3 linked regions of the Homo sapiens genome follow. The protein of the gene in region 1 interacts with the protein of each later gene in a pairwise test. Each region holds a gene or a part of one and is shown in the gene's direction. Other genes may lie near its edges. The genes, in order: ZNF319, VWC2 and BEGAIN.

Region 1 (7,644 bases):
AACCATCTCCCTGTGATGCTGTGCTTCAGTGGTCATGCTCCTAGTCTGCCTTCACACCTGTACACCTGGCTCTGCCTTTTAGCTAGCAGTAGCAAAATTAGTGAAAGTACTAAAAGTCTCTGATATGCAGAAATAATGGTGTAAGCTGTCCTCTCTCTCTCCCTCTCTCTCTCTGCCTCAGCTGCCAGGCAGGCAAGGGCCCCCGTCCAAGTGGCGTGACTCACGTAACCTTGTCAATCATTGGAGATGGCTCACACTCCTTACCCTGACCCTTTGTCTTGTATCCAATAAATATCAGCGCAGCCTGGCATTCGAGGCCACTACCGGTCTCCGCGTCTTGGTAGTAGTGGTCCCCCGGGCCCAGCTGTCTTTTCTCTTATCTCTTTGTCTTGTGTCTTTATTTCTACAATCTCTCGTCTCCGCACACAGGGAGAAAACCCACCGACCCAGTGGGGCTGGACCCTACAAGATATTCTATGTTTATAGACAGAAAGATTCAATATTGTAAAGATGTCAGTTCTTCCCAATTTGATCTACAGATTCAATACAATCCCAGTCAAAATCTCAGCAAGTTATTTTGTGATACTGACAAACGGATTCTAAGGTGTACATGGAGAGGTAAAAAACCAAAACAGGCCAAGTGCTGTGGCTCATCCCTGTAATCCAAGCACTTTGGGAGGCTGAGGCCAGAGGATTGCTTGAGCCCAGGAATTCAAGACCAGCTTGGGCAATATAGTGAGACCCTATCTCTAAAAAAAACCAAAAAAAGCCCCCAAAAAACCCAGAATAGTCAACACACTACTGAAGGAGAAGAACAAAGTTGGAGGACTGAAACTACCCAACTTCGAGACTTAACTATGTAAAGTTACAGCAATCAAAACAGTTCACCAATGGTATTGGTGAACAAATAGATGAATGGAACAGAATTGAGAACCCAGAAATAGACCCACATCAATACAGTCAACCGATCTTTGGCAAAGGAGCAAAAGCAATACAATGTGAAAAAGAGAGTCTTTTCAACCAATGGTGCTGGAATAACTGGATATCCATATATAAGAAAAGGAATCTAGACACAGACCTTCCACCTTTCACAAAAATTAACTCAAAATGGACACAGAACTAAATGTAAAATGCAAAACTGTAAGATTCCTGAAAGATAACATAGGAGAAAAATGTAGATGATCTTGGGTTTGGTGACAACTTTTTAGATATGACACCAAAGGCAAGATCCATGAAAGAAATAATTGATAAGCTGGACTTCATTAAACTTAAAAACTTCTGCTCTGTGAAGGACAACGTCAAGAGAATGAAAAGACAAGCGACTGGCTGGGAAAAAAATGTATTTGCAAAAGACGTATCTGATAAAGGACTATTATTTCAAATATAAAGAACTCTTAAAACTCAATATTTTAAGATCCAATATTAGACCCACATCATAATATTAAATAAACAAAAATGATTAAAATTTATTAATAAACAAAAATGATTAATATTAATAAACAAAAATGATTAAAAAGTGGGCAAAAGACCTTAACAGACACCTCACTGAGGAAGATACACAGATGGCAAAAAGCATTGAAAAGATGATCTGGATCATATGTCATCAGGGAAATGCAAATTAACAGACAACAGTGACATATTGCTACACACCTATTAGAATGGCTAAACTCCAGAACACTGTCAATACCAAATGCAACTCCTTTGGGCAAAAACCAAGGAATGTAATTGCTGGATTTTATGATAAGAGTATGTTTAGTTTTGTAAGAAGCCACCAAACTGTCTTATTTGAGATGGAGTCTCACTCTGTCACCCAGGCTGGAGTGCAGTGGAGCGATCTTGGCACACCACAGTCTCTACCTCCCAGGGTCAGTCAATCCGCCTACCTCAGCCTCTCAAGTAGTGGGAACCATAGGCGTGTGCCACCACACCTGGCTAATTTTTTTGTATTTTTGGTAGAAACAGGGTTTCTACCTGTTGCCGAGGCTGGTCTCAAACACCTGGGCTCAAGTGATCTGCCTGCCTCCGCTTCCCAAAGTGCTGGGACTATAGGTGTGAGCCACCTGGCCTAGCCAGTGCTACCCCCATTTTAGATTTGAAGAAACTGAAGCTCTGAGAAGTCTAGTATCTTATAAAGGGCACCCAGAGTAGTGGGCAGCGGAGTGAGGTCTGACTCTGAAGCCTGGGCATTTTTTGTCTTCCACCTGCTGATCAGAGCTAGGGTGGGATTTGAACCTTGCACACCCAGCGTACCCAGGGCCCTCTCAGAAATAAAGTGCCTGGCATGACCTTGACACCCTGCTCCAGATTCTCCTTTGGTCACCTCCTCGTGAACAGGGAGAATATTATACCCAGAGGTAATACACATTTTAGGCTACGAATTCAAAACCAAGATGACAGAAAAATCCCCAGTTCTTGAAACCTGCTCTTTCTCTGCTAAGTCAATGACTTTCCCACCACCAGTGTTAGAGGTTTCTGGTTTCTTCCTTCTAGTTGGGGCCAGATTCTGCCCTTCATGAGGCACCTACGGGTCTATGGGTCTTGGCAACTTGCCTTTCACACATCACTCACATGGTACATAGACGTGGGTGGCCCAGTTGCCTCGCTCGTGGGGGAAGGTGCGCACCCGTCCCCCGTGTTTTGTGCTGTCATCTTCAGGCCCCTCCTCGGTGCCCGGGAACATGTTCAGCACACTGTCAGGTACTGGAAATCTCTGCCTGGGAAGGGGGCTCTGGCCACTGCAAAAGAAAAAAAGAAAAATGAGTACATTTATCCTGTTAGCATTCTCTACCTTTGTATATACCACAAAAGTTGTAACCCCTTATATATGGTGGCTCTGAGTGTGTGTTTCCAGCCTGGTGCTGGAAGCAGCTTCTAGATAGCGAAATTGTTTCTCCAGTATTGTCTCATTGGGGTCTCCAACTCTGGGGCACAAGGTCCCCATGGGAAACAACAGGGCATGCAACAATGTGGTTCAGGGGTCACATTTCCAAGCTGGACAGGCTGCAGCTGGAGTAGCACTTTCTAGCTCTATGACCTTGGGCAAGTCATGTCCCCTTTCTGGGCCTCAAATGCCTCATCTGAAAGTATATGTCTACCTGATAGAGCAATTGTGGGATCAACTGAGCTACTGCTTGTAAAGCACTCAGCAAAGATAAGGCCTAGCATTTAAGAATCTAAGCCCCAGGAAGTAAGGCCGACGGTTTTGTTCACCACTGAATTACCAGACCCCAGCCTGGCAGGGAGTGGGTGCTCAGTGAATATTTACTGGATGAATGAAAAGGCTCTCCCTACGCTTTAGCAAGTATTACTATCGCAATTGTATTCAAATCAGGAAACGGACCTAGGATGGTACAGGGATGTGTGCCAGGCGATAGAGTGGGCCAGCGCGAGGCTGGACCCGAACCCAGGTCTGGCCTCCCAACTTGGCCCTAGCCAGGTGGGGCCACTCTGGAGCTTTGTCTGGGGTGGGGGGGAGGGGTATATCTTCTGGATCCTCCTTTCTTCCTGCGTCCCCTTTTCCTTCCCAGAGCCGCCCCGCATCCTCCCTCCCCACTCCACCCCCAGACATTCGGGTCCCGTCTGGCTCTAGGGTGAATGCGCGCGCCCTCCGGAGAGACTTCCTCACTCCTCACCGACGGTGGCTCCCATCCCCCGGCCTGGTCCGCATCCCGTCCTCGGACTCATCCTCGGAGCCGCTGCTGCTGTAGCCCACCAGGGGCGCCGCGCTCATGGGGCCTCATCCAAGACCACCAGAGCAGGTCCACCAGCAACCTCAACCGGCACCCGGAGTTCCGCTGTGCCGGAAGCGCCCTCCCAGGGGCGGGGCCTGGGCTGGCACCGCCTCGGGGCGGAGCCGGGAGGGGCGGAACCCGGCAGGACAGTGGTGAAGATTCAGCCCACCGACTCCAAGCTGTCTGCCGGCTGCGCACGCGGATCTGGTCACCTGCAGCCTCCCGGCACCCCGCTGGGACCTCCCCAGCCTTCGTGTACCCATTTCATATATCGCTCAGGGCCCTCACCTTTCTGCCCGCTGCTGTCTGCAGCCACCCGGGACCAGACATACCAGACACGACAGTCCCGGGTCAGCGCACTAGACCCAGCGGAGACCCCTGCCTGCCCCGAGCCCGGCCAGGATCAGAGGTCCTGGAGCCCCCTCCTCAAACCAGCCCAAAGTCCAAGCCCCTAAAAGCCAAGCTGAGCAGTTAGGGGCGGATCAATTGTGGCAGACCAGAGCCTCTAGGAGGCCCCTCCTCTCCTGCGCAGAGCCGGGCCGAGGGCGGTCACCCGGAGCCCCCTCCCCTAAGCCCGAGCGGGGTGGCCGGAAGCAGAGCGCCCTTCCTCGGTTAGTCGAGGCGCCCAGGCCTGGCGACTCGAAAACCGCCCGGAGCACCCGGCTTGTCCGACCTGGCCCGGCCACGGGGTCCCCGGCAGGGGGCGGCCTCGCTCCGCGCCGCCCGCTCCTCCCGCATTGGCCGCCGCCGCCCGGGATGCCGCTCCTCCCCCGGCCCCGCCTCCCTGGCCCCCGCGCCGCCCGCCCGTCCGCCCGTCTCCGCAAGGCCATCGGTCCGTCCGCCCGCCCTCCCGGCGCTCCTCGCCCCGGCCCCGCTACTCCGGCAGCGCGCGTCGCTTCCTCCGTTCCGGCCGCCGCTAGCCCGTCCCCCGCCCCCGGTCCGGCCGCAGCCGCTACGCGAGGCCGGGGATTGGCAGCGCGCGTAGGCCGCGCCGCCGCGGATGGAGCCGGAATAAAGGGGCGGCCGAGAGAGCAGCTGGTCGCCGCTCGCCCCGCGCCTGCCCTGCAGGCGGCCTGGAGCAGGTGAGCGGCGGGGCGCCCGGGGCCGCATCTGGGGGCCACCCCCGCGCCCGCCGCACCCCTTCCTCTGCCGGCCCGGCCGCCCCCCCGCGCCCCTCCGCCGCGACCTAGCGGCCTCTTGAGCTTCTGGGCGGCCCAGGCCGGGCCTCGAGGCGCAGCCGCTTCCTGGGCCCGGCCTGTAGCCCTGGGGCCTTTCTCCAGCCCGGCCGCCCTCGGGGCTCGCCCTCGGGTCGCAGCGGCCGGGCCATCCCGGACGAGGGCTGACAGGACGCAGCCCAGCTGGGCCTGCAGGCAGGGCCGGCGGGAGGTGATCGGCTTTCATTCGGTTTCTCAGGGAGGAAGAAGAGACGGGGTGGGGCGCAGGTGGGGGGCCTCCCCTGCCTCTCCTTGCCTCCTCTCTCCCCTTTGCGGAGTGATCACAGAGGCTTCCTGGCTGCACCTTGCTGCAGGAGGGCCAGGGTGGGCAGGGGGTGCTGCAGACCAAGCCAGGGGACACTGTCTGACAGCCATTCATGCCAGAAAAAGCAAACAAAACAGTGGGTTGGCACAGCGGACCTACAGGCGCTCAGAGAAGCCCACCTTCCCCCTCTCTGTCCCGAGAAGGCTTAGAGTGGTACCTGCTTGCTCAAGCAACCTGCTGCCTCCACCCAGAGCAGCCGCTCCTCTCCTCCCTCCCTTCCGGAAGATGCTGAGGATGACAGCTTTTAGCCTGACTCTTACATTTCTTTGGCAGAGCAGTTAGAGGCCAGACTGTCCTGTGAAGGCTTCTCCTTCCTTCTTCCTCTGCTCAGGAGAAAACTTACAAACTTTTAAATGTAAGAGGCAGATGAGCTGGGAACCTGGAAGTGGGTTGCATCTGACTCTGAAAGTTCCTCCCTCTCGCTGGCATTACCTCATGCTGCCACAAAGTGGTGAGTTAGAGATTTGCCTGGGCTGGGTGGGCTTTACCTTCCAACAATTACCCAGAACTTTATAGGCTTGGAGTAAGGGAATGGAGTTGTCTCTAGAGAGGTGATGAGAAATGCTCTGTGGTTAGCATGCTGCATCCTGCATTGCCAAGGCAGACCAGGGCAGTTTCTTACATTTTCCTGCAGGCCTTGACACTATGAGATTCAGAGGATTTAGGACTTTGTGTGTGTGTGTGTGTGTGTGTGTGTGTGTGTGAGTTCTGGGAGAGAACCAGAGTGAGGAAGTTCTGCTGTGTGGACATCAAGCCTGGGTGGTTCTGTGGCCCTCTCATCTAGCCCCCATCACCTATGGGCTCTGGTTCCTGTAGGGCCACCCATCCTGTCACGCGGAGAGAGAATGGGCCTGTGGTCAGGGATAGTTGAAGGGGTGTGGTCAGTCCCTCATAGGTGAGAGTTTTTGAAATGGTCCTTGGTTCCACGTAGTTGTCCTAAATATTGACTGTCAGAGGCCATTTGCCACTGGGCTCTCAGACCTGGGAGGTCTGGCCTCCTTAGCTCTAAGTGGTGTGGCCCGTATTAAGACTCAGGGTAGCAACAGGAGAGGAGCTGCGGGCCTTAAGGAGGATTCTGTATTGTAGGCAGATAACCCCGGACTCTCACCTGTGAGTCTCAGCTAAAGGGTTGGCAGGAAGCTGGAGGGGACTTGTGGAGGCTGGGATGTCCTGGCCCAGGGGCGGGGCACTGAGGTGGGTGGGGGTGGAGGCCGCTGCCATTTCCTCTGCCTGGAGGAGCTGAGCTGGCTGCAGACCTCTCTGATTGCCTAAGAAGGGAGGAGTCCTGCAGCCCTGAGCACCTCTGCCTTCCCCGATGTGTGGTTTGTGATGGTGTGGTGAGTGCGGGCAGGACAGGGAGAAGGCCCAGGAAACTGCTGCTTGTTCCTTCCTCGAGCTCATACTTTCTCTCTTCTCTACAGAACGGATCACTGGGGAAGGCAGAGTCTCCCCGGCACTGCTGGGACCCTCCCTTGAAGAGCCCCCATGTCCTGTAGGCAGAGCCTTGTAGTCTGTCCGCTTGGTTACTGACTCGGGCTGTCTGACCAGCCCCTCTTCTGTGCCTTGTCTGAGGTCCTTGTCCATCTCTGTGATTGGGCAGCTTCTCTCTCTGGATTGGGTCACGTGAAGCGGGAAACTGAAGCCATTACTCTCCAAACCCTGTTTCATCTTCCCAAGCATGTCGGAAAGCTGGCAACAGCCGCCACAGACGCAGCCGCAGCAGCCACAGCCACCGCAGCCTCAGCACCATGCAGAGCCACCGCCAGCCCTGGCAGAGCACACGCTGCCTCCGGGCACGGCGGAGAACCCCCTGGGCTGTGCCGTCTATGGCATCCTCCTGCAGCCAGACCCCGGCCTGCAGCCCCCACAACACGCACCCCTGCAGGCAGCAGGAGAGCCAGGCCCCAAATGTGGCGTGTGTGGTCACGACCTGGCGCACCTGTCCAGTCCGCATGAGCACCAGTGTCTGGCGGGCCATGACCGCTCATTCCAGTGCACACAGTGTCTCAAGATCTTCCACCAGGCCACTGACCTGCTGGAGCACCAGTGCGTGCAGGCTGAGCAGAAGCCCTTCGTCTGTGGGGTCTGCAAGATGGGCTTCTCACTACTCACCTCACTGGCACAGCACCACAGCTCCCACAGTGGCCTGGTGAAGTGTTCCATCTGTGAAAAGACCTACAAGCCAGCTGAGGCAGCGGAGCCAGCCACCACAGCCGCCCCGTCGCTTCCCGCAGCACCCGCGCCTTCCACTGTCACCCCTGCTGAACAGGCCGACAAGCCCTACAGCTGCCCCATCTGCCAAAAGCCCTTCAAGCACCTGTCGGAGCTCTCTCGGCATGAGCGGATCCACACCGGTGAGAAGCCCTACAAGTGC
Region 2 (7,103 bases), on another chromosome or scaffold:
TAGATTATGTGTTTAGGGTATCATGCAAATGTTCTAAAAATTAAAAGAAAAAGAAAATATTTGCTCACTGGGTGCCAAATCATAGTGGATGGTGAAACCAACAAGTGCAGTTAATGGTTAAAAATTGTTTTGTTTCAGATGAGTAGTAGTAATGTTAATAATACCGGCCATCTCTCTAATGCCTACTGTGCGTCAGGATCCCGCTGGTTTTCATGTACGTTAGTTAAATCTCATCCCATGCTAGGAGGTGGATTATTATCCATTGTCTCCATGTTATGGAGAAGAGGAAACAGACACAGAATATTTAAATAATGTGTTGAAGGCAGAACAGCTATTAAGAAACAGATTCATATGTCAAACTAAGCAGTTCTACTCCATAGCTTAGGTTTTTAACCCTTATACTCTACTTGAACCAAAAGCCCAGCTCCACTGGGGCTTTAGTTTGGGTGAAGGTGCTGCACAGCATGCATGCACAGGCTCTAGGTAAAATCTCTGCCAGTGGGCTAGGGGCCTGAGAGAGACCTGCACAGGTGTTCAGTTATTCCAAACACCTCAAGGTAGGTTCAACCTATGGCCTGCCTGGACTTAGCCCATTGACTTACCAGGCCATAGCTGTCCTTTTCCCACCTGCAGAGGGCGTTATGGAACGTGCAGCTACTAAAGCAAAGGTTTAGGGAGGAATTCTGCTGGAATACCCCTCCTGGAATTAGCCTGTGAGATCTGCTAATTCCCAGGATGTGAAGCCCATGTAATTACTGACTTGTGGCAATGAATTATCAAGTGTTATATAAGTACAAAGCCAGGAAGGACAGATCTATATATAGTGTACAAAGTATGGAAAGAGTGCTGGAATTTAGAGTCAGGAAACATGGTTATTCATTCTGGCTTTACCACTAACCAGCTGCAGGACTGGAACAAAAGACATATGCCCTCTGGGTTTCTTTTCTCTTATCTGTAAGATAAGGGGCCAGCTTTCCCTAGGCTCATGTAGCAAAATATAACTCCAGGCATACATTGCTTAAGTACTCACATTTGACTGCAGCCCTTTGGAGAAAGACAACTGGGATGAGCAACTCATATGAACCACGCCCAGGCCATGCAAAATTAACTAAATCAGAAACCCTGCCCTCAAAATGCTTCCTGCCTACGGGAGGGTCTGGTAGATATCTCTCCAGGTGTTTTGGGTGCAGAACAAAAGTTCACAGGCAAATGTGTCCAGGTAAAGGAACCTGTGGGTGCTAGAAGAGCTCAGAGGAGGGGCCTTCCATTTTGGCCTGGAGCAGGGTCATAGAACACTAGAACAATTCTCTTAAGTTTTGAATTGGTAACATCATCGGCTCTTCTAAAGTCAAAGATAAGCAGTTGGTTTTTAATTAATTCCTTTTGTTGTTTGCACTATTTATAGTTTCATAGTAATTTTCTGGAATTGTCCTTAGAAGTAAACTGAGGAATTAGTAGCACTTTGATCTAGTAAGCCCAAATACTTCAGTGTCCACTTACCTACCTGAGATCACAGGTAAAGGAAATAATTCAAACTTCTGTCTTAACAATTCATGCTAAATGCTAGCAGCCATGAAGCTGCTTTTGTCTATGGAGGAGAGGGATCTCTCATTTAATTTCCTCTTTGCTACCTGTTTGGTAGTCCATAGGTAGAATGTGTTTTCAAACTCTGAGGATGGGAGATGATATTGACAAAAGGGAAATTGGAAAGATTACAATCTTAGGAAGAATTAAAATACCAGTAAAGCTATTTTTGGAATATTAAGTGCATCTTCCATCTTCAAATGACGTTTCATTCTAAACTTTCATCATTTATTACCAGATGCTGGGATGCACACATGCTTGAACGTTGCAAAGTTGTTACATATTTTTAATTATATGCTTGTTCTTACAATATGTCAACTACATAAAGATTTTATAGTGTTAGAGCATGTTTGCTCATTTTTGTTAGTATCGGGAACATTTCTAGGCATTCTGCTAATTTATCGTGGCCTTGTGCAAGCCATTTATTGTCTCCATTTTTGTTTCCTTCAATGTACAAAAGAGAAAGCAATGCTTTTTTTGAAGAATGTTGAAAATATGAATGTAGAATGGTATAGGGTTAGTTGTGAGTCCACGGGCTTTGTGGGTTGCAGTAATGGAGATTTGTCATGATGCTGAGTACCAGGGCACAGAAATTGTTAACATGCCTGCTCTGGGTATTCTGGGTTTCAGAGAGAGATTGTAGTCTGTAATGTGCATAGCACAAAGTACATGGAAAATGAAAAAGGAAAGCATTCTGTCTGAAGTGCTTTGCACTTCTCTGAAGAAAATGTGATTCAAATGGAGATTGTGGTACAGTCGGGTCATGCCTGGAACACTGTTTACTTTAGCAAGGAAGGAAGTGAAAGTGAGATTATTTGGGCCTCAGTCCCTGCAAGATGCATAGATCCTTTAACAGTCTGTTCTCTGCTTCCAGAGAGGGAGAGAGAGAGAGAGAGAGAGACAGAGACAGAGAGAGAGGGGAAATTACTAGTTATTGATGGAGGCTTGACCCTCTTTGAGCAGTAGATTAACTCCAGAGCCTGGCTGTGCTTGTGATGTGCAGGGTATTTGGCTCCGGCAGGAGTGCGGTTTCTCCCTGTCTTCATAGGCTTCTCTTTCTTTGGGCATGTTTTGTTGCTGCTTTCTCTACTCAGTTTTCTGCATATTCTAAACTTGTTTTTTCCCTTCTTTCTGTACTCTTTTACCCCATTAAAACTTCCTCTCTTTACAGCCTGTTTGATCTCAGTTAGATACTTGTGAAAGATCTCACTGACTCCACAAAATACCATTAAGCTGCTAATAATAATGAGAGTAATGTGTTCATTCCTCCAGGGATGGTTGTAATTTAATTTGTACATCCAAATAAAAACATAGTTAATAGTAGAATTTTCTCCACTGCCTCTCAAATGATACCAAGTGTCTTTTTTTCTTTAACTTATACCAGCAGGCATCCAACTTTGAATAAGGAAACTTGTCTATTGGCTTATTTTTTTTTTTCAGTAAAGGAATGATATTTTTAACTGTTTTCTGCTTCCTACAGTACATTAGTCTGCTAGGGCTGCCAGAGCAAAGTAACACAGACTGGGTAATTTAAACAGAAATTTGTTGTCTTGGAATAAATCTGGAAATCCAAGATTTTCAGACTTCCACATTTCCAAGTAATCTGGAAGTCCAAGATCAAGGTGTCAGCAGGGCTGGTTTCTTCCGAGGCCTCTCTCCTTGGCTTGCAGATGTCCATCTTCTTCCTGTGTTTTCTCATGGTGTTCCCTCTGCATCTGTCTGTGTCCACATCTCCTCTTCTTATAAGGACACACTCATATTGGATTGGGGCCTGACTTCATTTTAACTTAATTACCTCGTTAAAGACCTGTCTCCAGACAGTCATATTCTTAGCTACTGGCGTGAGGACTTCAAAATTTGAATTGTAGAAGCACACAGGTTAGCCCAAAACATAGTGTCAATGACCAAAATTGACTTCCTAAAACAGACCTAACGAGGTAGTAACAGTGGGGTGTGTGAGGATGCATCAGCACACATGATGGGAAAACAGTGCTTATGACGAAGGCACGGAGTGAGTGGTGATGAAGTGTATGCCAATGAACATTAACTGAGGGGCTCAACTTGACCATTCTGATTCTGTGTCTATTGCATTCTGAGAGCTACTTTAGGAGTTCCTGTATTACTTATGTGAATGGATCCTTGTGTCACAGAAAACTAAAAGGTGACTAAGGGTAGGGAGAGGGGCTGTATTGAGCAGTTGTAAATTTTGCCTCAGTGGCCACATGATTTGTTCAGAAGCAAATCACATTTGAAATGTGTTAATTGAAAAAAAATCATTCTATTTTGCTCAACAAAACAAGTTGTTTTCATCATGGGAATCTTGGTCTCCTGGAGGACTGTGATGGTGGAAAGGGGAGTTTGCAAGCTTATTTCATGTTTTATAAAACCTAATGGAATTTTTGTGACTCTGAAATAGGGCCATACAGGATAACTAAATCTTCACATTTCTTTGCTTTTGGTAGGATTGATATCAGCAAAGTGTGTCAACACTGGTTATCGTAGCCGATCAGGAGCTCTGATTGGCAATTGTATAAGTCTTTGAAGAAAAAGGGAAGATGAATTATTAATAAGTGAAGCTTACTAGACTGTCTTTCAAAGCATAAGAACTGTTGAGAGAGAGATAACAGGAAGGGGTACTTGGAGGTGAAATGATTTGGGACCACTGAGTTAAACCAAATTCTCTCTGACTGCCTCCGTATCTGACTTGCCATTAACCCCACTGCAAAATCTTATTTCTAGGTTTTTATCAATTAAAAAAATTTGAACATGAAATTTGGAATCAAAACCTTCATCTAAATAGATCTCTATATCAATTATGAGAAAGTGCCAGCAAAGAGAAAGCTACGGTTATTCACACTTTTCAGTCTAATGGTATTTATATTCTTTTGGCTGATGTTACTTAACTGAAAACAATGCTATTATTATCCACCTTCACTAAGTAAAATGAGTCAATCTGTGTTCTTTTCTGCAAGTCAGGCTAATGCATGTACTGTTGCTGTCTCTGAGTTTGTTTTGGTTCTGAGTAAGATTTTGTAAATTCTCTACTTCTCATTTTCTACCCTTGTGTCTAAAGCCATTTAAACAGTGACTTTTTTTTTTAAAGAGGGAGTCATATGCCATATCTAGACTCTTTAGATGTGTTCCTAACTCAGGTGGGGGAAACACAGCTTTAAAAACTGCTTATTTGCATGTTCCATACAATATCTGATGTGAAGTATGATAGAATTAACACCATAATCTTTTACAGTGGGCAGAAGGGAATCAATATTTATCTAGTGCCAATATTTTTTATATATTGGCTTTTCTGGAGTAATTTACACAACAGACTGAGTTGGTGGTATTTTCTTTATTTTTAAAGGAGAGAAAACTAAGGTCCGAAAAAGTTAAATAGCTTGATCAAGGTCATAGAGCTAGTAAATGGTGAAGACAGGATTTGAATCCTAGCGTGTTGGACTCTGAAGATCGTGCATAGTGTCTTCGTGACCATATGGTGATGAAGTGGCATTTTGCGTGTGGTGGAGAACATTTCAGGTACCCGGAAAAAGGAAAAGTTATACAAGCCCAGAGTGCCTTGCTTATATGTATGTCCAATAAATGCTTGATCCACTTGGCTAAGCATTTATTTACATGGATTTGTCATATTTGACTTGGCCATCTGATGAACAAAATAATGTCTGTGTCCTTCAAAGGATGAAGTCTTGAGTCGTAATGGGACTAAAAGCACTTAGTCCCAGGATTTCCCTGAGAGCAAGGGGGAATGAGTCCAGGGGGCAGTGAAAAGAAGACTAGATCCCAAGAGGCAGGTAGGACTCCAGGGATTATCAGACCCATGTGGGGCAACAGGTGGCCCAAGAGGAAGATCTGGTTCTAGGAGGTATTCTATTTGGCTCATGGCATATAAAACATTTGTTTACTAGTGCCTGTATTTGACAAGCGGGAGGTTCATATAAATTCCCAGATTGCCTAATTCTTACAAAAATGAAATGATTCCCAGATGGCAGCCATCTGTCAGAGCTGGGCAGGGCTGCCCCTTTGGGAGGGCATTTGTTTTCCAGCTGACCACACCCCCCTTGCAGATGTGTGATTCACCCATGCTCCTGTAAATAAATACATGACTTTGAAAAGCCTCTTGTTCATAGGCAGTGAAAATTCACCTTAGAAAATTAGTGCCCCCTCCAAAATCATACAGGCAGTTGATATCATGAGGAGGTTTAGGAAAGCAGGTCCCATGCTCTCCAGTCCTTTCCTCTTCAGTTTTGGTGGAGAATCAGCTTCTGGGACTTTGAGGACAGGGTACTTATCATCTGAACGGTGGGGTGAATGGGGTTCTGTTTTATCCAGTGCTTCCCTGGACAACTTTCAGAGCCTTGTTTTCTAGTGGTTAAAAAAAAAAAAGATAATGGGGCCTGGTGTGGTGACTCATCCCTGTAATCCCAGCACTTTGGGAGACTGAGGTGGGAAGATGACTTGAGTCCAGGAGTTCAAGCCCAGTCTAGACAACATAGTGAGGCCACATCTCTACAACAAATTGAAAAAAAAAAAAAAGGCCAGGCATGTTGGTGTGCTCACCTGTAGACCCAGCTACTTGAGAGGCAGAGGCAGGAGAATGGCTTGAGCCCAAGAATTTGAGGTTGCAGTGAGTCATGATTGGGCCACTGCATTCCAGCCTGGACAACAGCATAAGACCCCATCTTAAAAAACAGAAAAGAAAAGAAAAAAAAGTGGATAGTATTCTGCATTCCTCTCCCATTATAAGAAGTAAATAAGATGTATGTGAAAGCAATTTGAACCTGTAAAGCTCTGAACAAAGTTCATGTGGATATTTAGACAAGTTCTGCAGAGTGTGCAGCTCAGGGGGAGGTAGCCACGCCCTGGTCCAGATTTTGGTCTCTAGAAGGACTCTTGTAGAACCTCTAATCATTAGGGACTGGCTCCATGGAGCTGCTTTTCCATAAAACATTACCTCCTCAGATGATATCTCTAAATCTGATAAGTCCCAACGGAAACATTATTCTTACATTTATTTGAAAATATTTAGGACACCATGTGTGTGAGGCCCTGGGCTGCATCCTAGAGATGTGACGGGAAGTAAATGGCCCCCTCCAGGAGACAGGCAGCAGTAGTGTGGTGTGTGAGGCACTGTGAGAGCTTGGGTCAGGGGGTCAAGGGGGCACACAGTAGAAGCCACTCTATTATTATTAATAGACTCCACTGTTGTTGATGGCTTGTTTTTAAATGACAGAGGAATCCTGGGCCAGATGTTCTAGGGAAAAGAAAAGAGTGTATCAAATGTAACAACTGTGAGTTTGCATGAAGGATATGGCTTCCCACCCAGGCCTACCTACCCTGTGACCATCCTTCATGGTACTTTTCTGACCACGTAGCTGGAAATCCTTCTTACTGCTTGTCTGTTCCAAGGCTGAGATCCTGCCAGCTGGATCATACTTCTCATTCTATTTCTGTCGGGCACTGGGGTGCGGCCAGGACATAGACTGCCTTTCAAATCTGTGGAAAAGGAT
Region 3 (7,499 bases), on another chromosome or scaffold:
AGGGACTAGGAGAAATGGCTGGGAGAAGACGGGAGGGCGCTGGTGGTTTCCAACCCCCTGAAACACTGTCCTGCCTCGGCAGAGGGGGTTAGCCCTGCCCCTGTGGGGCCACAGTTGTAGCTCAGAACTTTCTGGGCCATTGTTAAACGGTAGAGACTTCTTGGGGGGAATTTCTCATCACCTGAGGTGTGCAAGGAGGGGCTAGATGCCTCTTTTAGCCTGATGTATGGTTTTGACTATGAGCCTTGCCGGGCATCAGCAGTGGGATAGGTGGGAGGGGCCTAGCTGGGAGCAATCTGGGAAAGCTTGCAAGAAGAAGCAACTTTGGGAGCTGAGATGAGGAGGTTTCCACATGGACACTCCACAGAAGGGCATCTCAGGATGAGGGAACTCCCTGTGCAAGGACCCGGAAACAGAAGGTATGGACAGGGATGATGTAGCCGGAGCTCAGCCTGGCTGGGGAGGGCACCACAGCAGCAGCAGGGCCGAGCCTGGCCCAGGACCTAGCAGGTGGGCCCCTGAAGGAGCCCAGACCCCCAGGTGGCCTTGGTGAACCCCTGCTGACTGTTCGCAGCAGCACGCACACCCAGTGGCAGTTTCTGTCTTAGTGAGGCCACCTCGGTGCCATCCCCTGCTCTGTGTCCGCTCCCCTTGCCCAGGCTCAAGCATGGGAGGCCCAGGATGGTGCCCTCCGTACCCAGGCCCAGGGCATAAAGAGATAAGCCCAGTCACACTGAGATGAGATGGGATTTTGCTTGACAAATATTTGTTTGAAAATGGTTTCCCCTATTTACAGTTTTGAAGCCCAAGCCACAGCATCCAAACCACCTCCACCTGCTGGAAAGGCCTGACAGGGGCAGAGGCCCAGGGAGGAGGCCACTGCTGCTTCCCATGGAGACAGAGCAGGGCAGGCAGTGGGGTGGAGGCCAAGGGGCTCACAGCACCACCCCAGGAGGAGCAGTGGGCCAGACCCCTGGGCCTGGGACCTGCCTCGGACAGAGCACCTACGAGGCTCCCAGCTGCCTGTGCCCGCTTCCTACGGTCCCAGGCCCCCCTCATCGTTGCTCCCAGGACAAGCAGGTGAAGGAACAGGGCAGCGGGGTACGGTTAGGGTTAGGGCTGGGGTTAGGATTAGGGTTAGGATTTGGTTTGGGATTAGGGTTAGGGTCAGGTTGGGATTAGGCTTAGGTTTGGGGTTGGGATTATGGTTAGGATTTGGGCTAGTGCTTGGGGTGTTTTTGGCAGTGTTTAGTGTTAGGGTTAGGGCTGGGTTGGGGTTTGGTTTAATGTTCCTTTTGGGATTTGGTTTTGGGTTGGCGTCTGGGTTAACTTTAGCGTGTGGTGTGGGTTGAGGTTATTGCTTTCTGGCAGGACAGTGTTGGGGTTAGAGTCGGGTTTAGGGTTCATGTTACTGTTCAGGCTAGCATTGGGGTAGGGTTAAAGTTTGCTTTGGTTTTGGGTCCCATTAGAGTTAGGTTTAGCATTTGATATAGGTTGGAATTTGGGTTAATATTGCAGTTGGGGTCATTGTTAGATACACACTTGGGCCAATTCAGGGCCTTCTCACCACCTGTGGAGGGCAGCTGTAGCCCGATTCTGCAGGGGACTCCAGAGTTTCAGTTGGAGCACCTGTTGTTTGTGGGAGAGTGGGAAGATACCTCTCACCTTCCCATTCTCTAGGGCTCATAGTCAGAACCCTTGCTCAATCTGTTCTTGTGGGTGGGGATTGGAAGATGAGGCAGGGAACTGGTCAGCATGGCTAGCTGATGCTGGAGCCCCTGTATGTGGCTGTCTGCGGGTGCCTCACTGTCAATGACTTCCCTGACGTGCTGTCCTTTCTTTTATACTCAGCCACCAGGGCCAGAAGCCTGGCATCACACCAGGCTATTCCTATCTCCCCCACCTCCATCCATCCATGCATTCTTTGGCACATTTAACCATGAGCCCCAGTGTGGTGCCACTTCCTGCCCTGCTCCCTGACCACAGTAGAGGACCACGCATCCCAGCGGGGAGATTGATGTCCACATCAACAGACAGATCAGATAGCTCTGGAACGCAGTAAGAGACACGCAAAAAACAAAATAGGGCAACGAGATTGAGCCATGGGGATGGTGATGTCAAACAGAGTGGTCCGTAGAGGTCTGAATGAGGGCAGGGGCCTGAGGAGAGGGTCCTCCATGGCCCCAGGGCATCACCTCGAAGTCCTGCCACTTTCATCCCTTCTTCCCAACCCGGCTGAAACCTTGCCTCCTCCAGGAAGCCTGCCTGATGCCCCAGGCTCTGCTGCACTGACTGTAGTTTCCCCATCTGCAAAAAGGGGCTAGTACCACTTCCCCTACAGGGGCATTGCAGGGATGCTCCCAGACCCACAACCAATGCCTGCTTTCTCTCCGCCTTCCTAGCTTAAGGGGGCTGGAGTGGGAAGGATAGAAGAGAGGGCAGGGAGGGTGGGGACGGGAGGTGCGTGCAGCATGGGGGAGGGGCTCTCCTGGGGCCTTCCCAGGCAGGCCTGAGCTGAAGCCTGCAAGCTGCTGGAGCTGAAGCAGGAGCCGCCCCCACCCCACCCGCCCCTCCCCCGCCTCCCCAGCCATCTGTGGCGTTGGCAGCAGCAGTGCCAGGGCGGGCGGTGAACATTCTGGCACCATCTGAGCAGGACCAGCCTCTGGGGAAGGGCCGCAGCCCAGGAGGAGGCAATGTGGGCAGAGCCCTGCCTGTACCCCAGGTTCCACATCCCCCATTGGTGTTTGTCCCCTTAGGGACTGGGGAGGGAAGGGACACTGGAGCTGGCAGGCTGGGCCTCACTACCTCTCACAGGATGCCTCCACTGCTGTGTGCTGCCTGAATGGTGTCTGAACCTGAGAGGCCAGAGTGGAGGTCAGGGAGCCTGTCCCTACTCCTGCTGGGGAGACTAAGGCCCCCTTGAGCAAAGAGGCTGGTCCCGTGGTGCACACCAGCGACGGTTTGGGCGAAGTCTGTCCACGCTTCGCCCAAACTGGGAGAGCCCCGCCCTGAGCTGCCGCCTCTCATTTTGTCTTGACTGTGGTGGGGTGCACTTGGAGGCGCCTCCCTCTGTCCATTGGTTACCCAATCATGTCCCTGGGACCTGAGAGGGAGCAGAGACAGGACTTTGCTTGACACGAAGTGGCTCCAGTCAGCTGCTGGTTCTTTTGCTTGTCTCCTTTTTTTCTGGGTTTCCCCTCTTGCCTTGCTATCAGTGCCTTTTCTCAGCACTGACACTGCCTGAATGTAGCAACCTACTCCCCAGATTAAATGAGAGAGCGTAGAAACTGCAAAGCATACAACATACAGCATATAAGGATGGTGGTGATGGCAGCTCAACAGTGGGAACTCAGTGTCCCCAAACTGTACACTTTAAAAGTGGTTAAAATGGTAAATTTTATGTTTTCCATGTTTTCCACAATTAAAAAACAAAAATATACAAGGTACTCATTCGCAGCATCTTCTAATCTGCCATGTACTTGGAAATGATATAAGCATGTGTGAACCATGAGCCCATAGGTCCCGAGGGAGGATATGAGCGAAGCACACGGGCTTTGCCAGCTCTGTTTCCACCACGCAGGACCCTCCCTGGCTGCCAGTGCTCCTCCCCGGGTTCCCACGCTGGCTGCTGCTGGGCTGGCTGGGATGGAAGACCCTCATGTAGCTGGCACCCTCAGGGCTGCCCCTTGCCCGCTCTGGGAGGAGAGAGGAGGGTTCACGCTGCACCTTTACCAGGGTAGGACTGGCCAGCCTGGGCTCTACCGGGCAGGTCGGTGGGATGCTTCAGACTGGAGGGATAGGCAGGGGGCAACACTGGTCCTCCTGAAGCCACCTTCCCTTCCTGAGAGCTCCTTGGGGAGAAGGCAAGCCCTGGAAGCCACCGACTGGGGGCTCGGGCAGAGCAAGGGCAGGGTAAGGGGCAGCTTGGCCAGGAGGCACCCTTGGGAGCCAGGGTTTCCTCATCTGTAAAATGTGACTCTGCGAGGGCAGGAGCTTGGTTTCACTCGCTACTGTACCCCCTGGGGCCTACAGCAGGGCTGGTTGGTACACACTAGGTGTCTAATAAATGTTGAGGGATTGAATGGATGGACCGATGAAAAGGTTGGGCAGGTCATTACTGACAGCCTCTGGGTTTCAAGGGCCCATTCACTCTGTCACTCACCTTCGCGCCCGTGCATTAGTTCTCTCATTTATTCATTCCCCCCGCCCCCCCAGCCCCGCATGCTCTACCGCACTCATTCATTCACGCGCTCAGCCATTCAAGCTGGCGCGGGTTCATTCATTCCCTGCCCCTCTGCCATTCCTCGCCTGGCCCCCGCGCACGCCGCACCCCCGCGCCCCTGCCCGGCCCTGCGCCCACCACTTGCGCCCCGGCCGGGCGCTGCCGGGAGGACGCGCGGGCTCAGCCGCGGCTGCGCGGGGCCGGGGCTGGCGGGGAGCCGGGCTGGGGGCGGGGGGCGGGCGCTCCCTGCGGGAAGCCGGGCGGGGTGGGGGAGCCCCGGCCGCGCCGGCTCCCGGCGCGCTCGGCCTCGGAGGGGAGGGGGCGGCGGTAGCGGCGGCGGCGGTGAGCGGCGCGGCTGCCCTGGGGCCATGTGGACTGGCGGTCGCCGGCCGGGCCGGCTGCGCCGGGCGGTGAGTACCTGCGAGCCGGGAGGGCAGGGCGCGGGCGCGGGCGCGGAGGCGGGGCGGGCGCCACCCACGCCTGGGGCGGTCCCTGCTCAGCGCGGGAGGTGGCCGGCCCCCCGCCCCGCTCCCCTCCGCGCTGCGCCCCCGCCGTGGAGGCTTCACTGGCCCGGGAGGAGCCGGGCCGGGTCTCCTGGGAACTGGGCACTCTCGGGTGGGGCGGGGATGCCCAGCCTCCGCGCGCCGCCGGGAGCGCCCGGGTCCTATCGCGGGGTCCTTGCGCCCTGACACGCGCGCCCCTGCGGCGGAAGGAAAGGAGGGACGGGTGACCAAGGGCGCGGCCGGAGGACTGGGGACCCGCCGCTGTCCCGGGCGGGTGGCGAGGGTGCGGGCAGGCCTGGACCCGCCTGCGTCTGGGGGCAGGGCCAGCCCCTGCTTGGGAGGCCGGAGAAAGGCCCGGGAGCCGGAAGGAGGCTGGACCCGGGGCCGCCTCATTGAGCGTTTGCAGCGCGTGGGCGCGCACGAACCTCGGACACCACCATCCCATTCAGTACCTCGCGGCAGGTACTATCCTCCTGCCCCTTTACAGGCGAGGAAACTGAGGCTCAGGGAGGCCAGGGCCTCGCCCAGAGCGGCTCAGCCGGCGCGCTCACCCTCCCTGAGCCCCAGCACGTTGGATGGGAATTTCTGCCCCAGCGTTTCCGCTTCCTGCTTGGTTTAGAGGTGTTTCCTTCCTCGTCTGTGCCCCACCCCATCCCCAATGTGGTTTCCTCAGGGCAGGAACAGCGTGGGCGACGCGCTGGAGTCTCCTGAGCCGGCAGAATGGGAGCAGAGTGGGCACCCGGGAGCGGGGCCGGATGGATAGGGAGCACTGCACGTGCAAAGTCCGCATGGCCAAGGTCGGCCGCCAGTGCAGACTGGGGGTCCAGGCCCTGGGGGTATGGGTGGGGCGGGGTCTCCACAGCCAGGCTCCGTCGGAGGCCCCAGTGCTCTGGCTCTCTGGAGGCCATGGACAGGTTCTTTTCCTTCTCTGGACCCTAGTTCCTCTGCCTGCCAAGAGCAGCAGAGACCCCCACTACTCCCAGGGCCAGGCTCCCACGAGGACTGTGGGCAGAAGCCCCTAACAAACTGCGGTGTGCAGCCCTGCCAGGCTGGCCTTGGTCTTGCCAGCAGGGGCAACTGGCCGTTGGGGGTGGCTCTGCCTGGCATCTGTGACACGCAGGGCGGGGAGACGGCAGAGAGGGCCCCAGCAGCATCCTGCAAACCCTTAATTTTCCCGACTCTCACTATAATCAGGGCAGCTTGGAAAAGCAAGCACTGTGGCAGATGCGGCTCTGCCCGGGCTCAGCACACGGGCTCTGGGCGATGGGCGGCTGCGCTGCCGCCAAGGGCCCTCCCCAGCTTTTGTCTCATATTTATAGATTCCAAGGCTCCGCGTTCCGTTTGTCGTCAAAACCTGGAGCTGTTCGCACCTGGGAGCTGAGTGGGGAGGGGAGGGCTGCCTAGAACCTCAGCCTGGAGGATGAGTTTTCCATGCGCTGGGGTGGAGTAGGGGGACACCTGTCAGAGCCCAGGCCTGGAGAGAGGAAATGAGCCCTAAGCAATCTGGAAGATCTTCCATCCACTCTCCCAAGACTTGGGCGCAGGGTCTGGCCCACATAGCTGCCATTTATGGAACGCCTGCTATGTACTGGGCCCTGGATCAGCATTTCCACGCATCATCTCCACGGCAACACTTTGAAGGAGCTTCCCTACTCCTGCAGGCACTCCTGATGCTGAAGAGTGGATGGATGGATGAATGGATGGATGGATGGATGGATGGATGGATGGATGGATGGATGGGAGGGAGGGAGGGATGGATGGGAGGGATGGATGGATGGGAGGGAGGGAGGGAGGGATGGATGGATGGGAGGGAGGGAGGGAGGGATGGATGGGAGGGAGGGAAGGAGGGATGGATGGGAGGGATGGGAGGGATGGATGGATGGGATGGATGGATGGATGGATGGGAGGGAGGGAGGGAGGGAGGGATGGATGGATGGATGGATGGATGGATGGATGGATGGGAGGGATTGACTGAAGCCCATGAGTCCATGGCTATTGGACACAGTCCACAAATCATTACCCAGGGTCCCAGGAGGTGGGGTCCAAGGGCTGAGTAGTTGCTGAACAGATGAAGGGGTCAAGGTGTGTTACAGGAGCCTGGCCCAAGGCCTGAAGGTGATGGGGAGAGTGTAGAGTGTTCAAGTCTCAAGACTTAGAGAGGCTGTGTCCTGCTGGAGTGTGGAAGCCATGGCGGTGGGGAGGTGTGGCTCCTCCCCCTAAGGGAGGTAAGGATCCCTGGGACAGATGGGTGGGTGACCCTAGGACTCGCCGTGTTGGTCTAGAATCACCCCGCATGGTTCTCTTCTGACTCCCCTTCCTGCCGCAGAGCTGGTCGCTAGCCTTAGTGGAGAGGCCTGGACGGAGGTCTGCAGCCCTGGGTTCTGGTTCCTCCTCTGCCGCTGACTCACTGTCTCCTCTCTAGGGCTCCGTATCAGAAGCTTAACACCCATTACAGTCAGGGGAGTGACTTCTGTGGCCTGAGAGCAGGCATCAGATTGTAGCCTGTGGTGGGAGAAGCTGGCCAGAGGTGTCTCTATTGCTTTAATCATTATAGGAATGAATGAATGAATGAATGATGAATGACTAAGTGTGTGAATTCTACACTCACCTAACATGCTGTACCTAAGCACCCACTCTGCACTGCTCATTGGGGTCACTTAGGTGAGTCTGACACAGACCTTGCCCTCCACGAGTCCACAGTTTGCTGGGAGACATGGACCTTGGCCAGTACGGCAGGAGTCAGGAGCTGCTGGGGCTCTTCTCTCCCCTCTAGC

What was found.
Region 2: the proteins of ZNF319 (region 1) and VWC2 interact in binary tests that used the Homo sapiens proteins (3 or more experiments, as listed by UniProt).
Region 3: the proteins of ZNF319 (region 1) and BEGAIN interact in binary tests that used the Homo sapiens proteins (3 or more experiments, as listed by UniProt).

The regions. Positions count from the first base shown.
Region 1 is NC_000016.10:57,997,570-58,005,213, reverse strand, and holds the start of ZNF319 (zinc finger protein 319), read left to right. Parts: upstream 1-4,541; 5' UTR 4,542-5,721; intron 5,722-6,691; 5' UTR 6,692-6,948; coding exon 6,949-7,644. Other genes in the region: USB1 (U6 snRNA phosphodiesterase 1), read right to left, coding at 2,569-2,735, 3,633-3,730. UniProt on the Homo sapiens protein: May be involved in transcriptional regulation.
Region 2 is NC_000007.14:49,776,576-49,783,678, forward strand, and holds part of VWC2 (brorin precursor), read left to right. Parts: intron 1-7,103. UniProt on the Homo sapiens protein: BMP antagonist which may play a role in neural development. Promotes cell adhesion.
Region 3 is NC_000014.9:100,584,382-100,591,880, reverse strand, and holds the start of BEGAIN (brain-enriched guanylate kinase-associated protein), read left to right. Parts: upstream 1-4,463; 5' UTR 4,464-4,590; coding exon 4,591-4,632; intron 4,633-7,499. UniProt on the Homo sapiens protein: May sustain the structure of the postsynaptic density (PSD).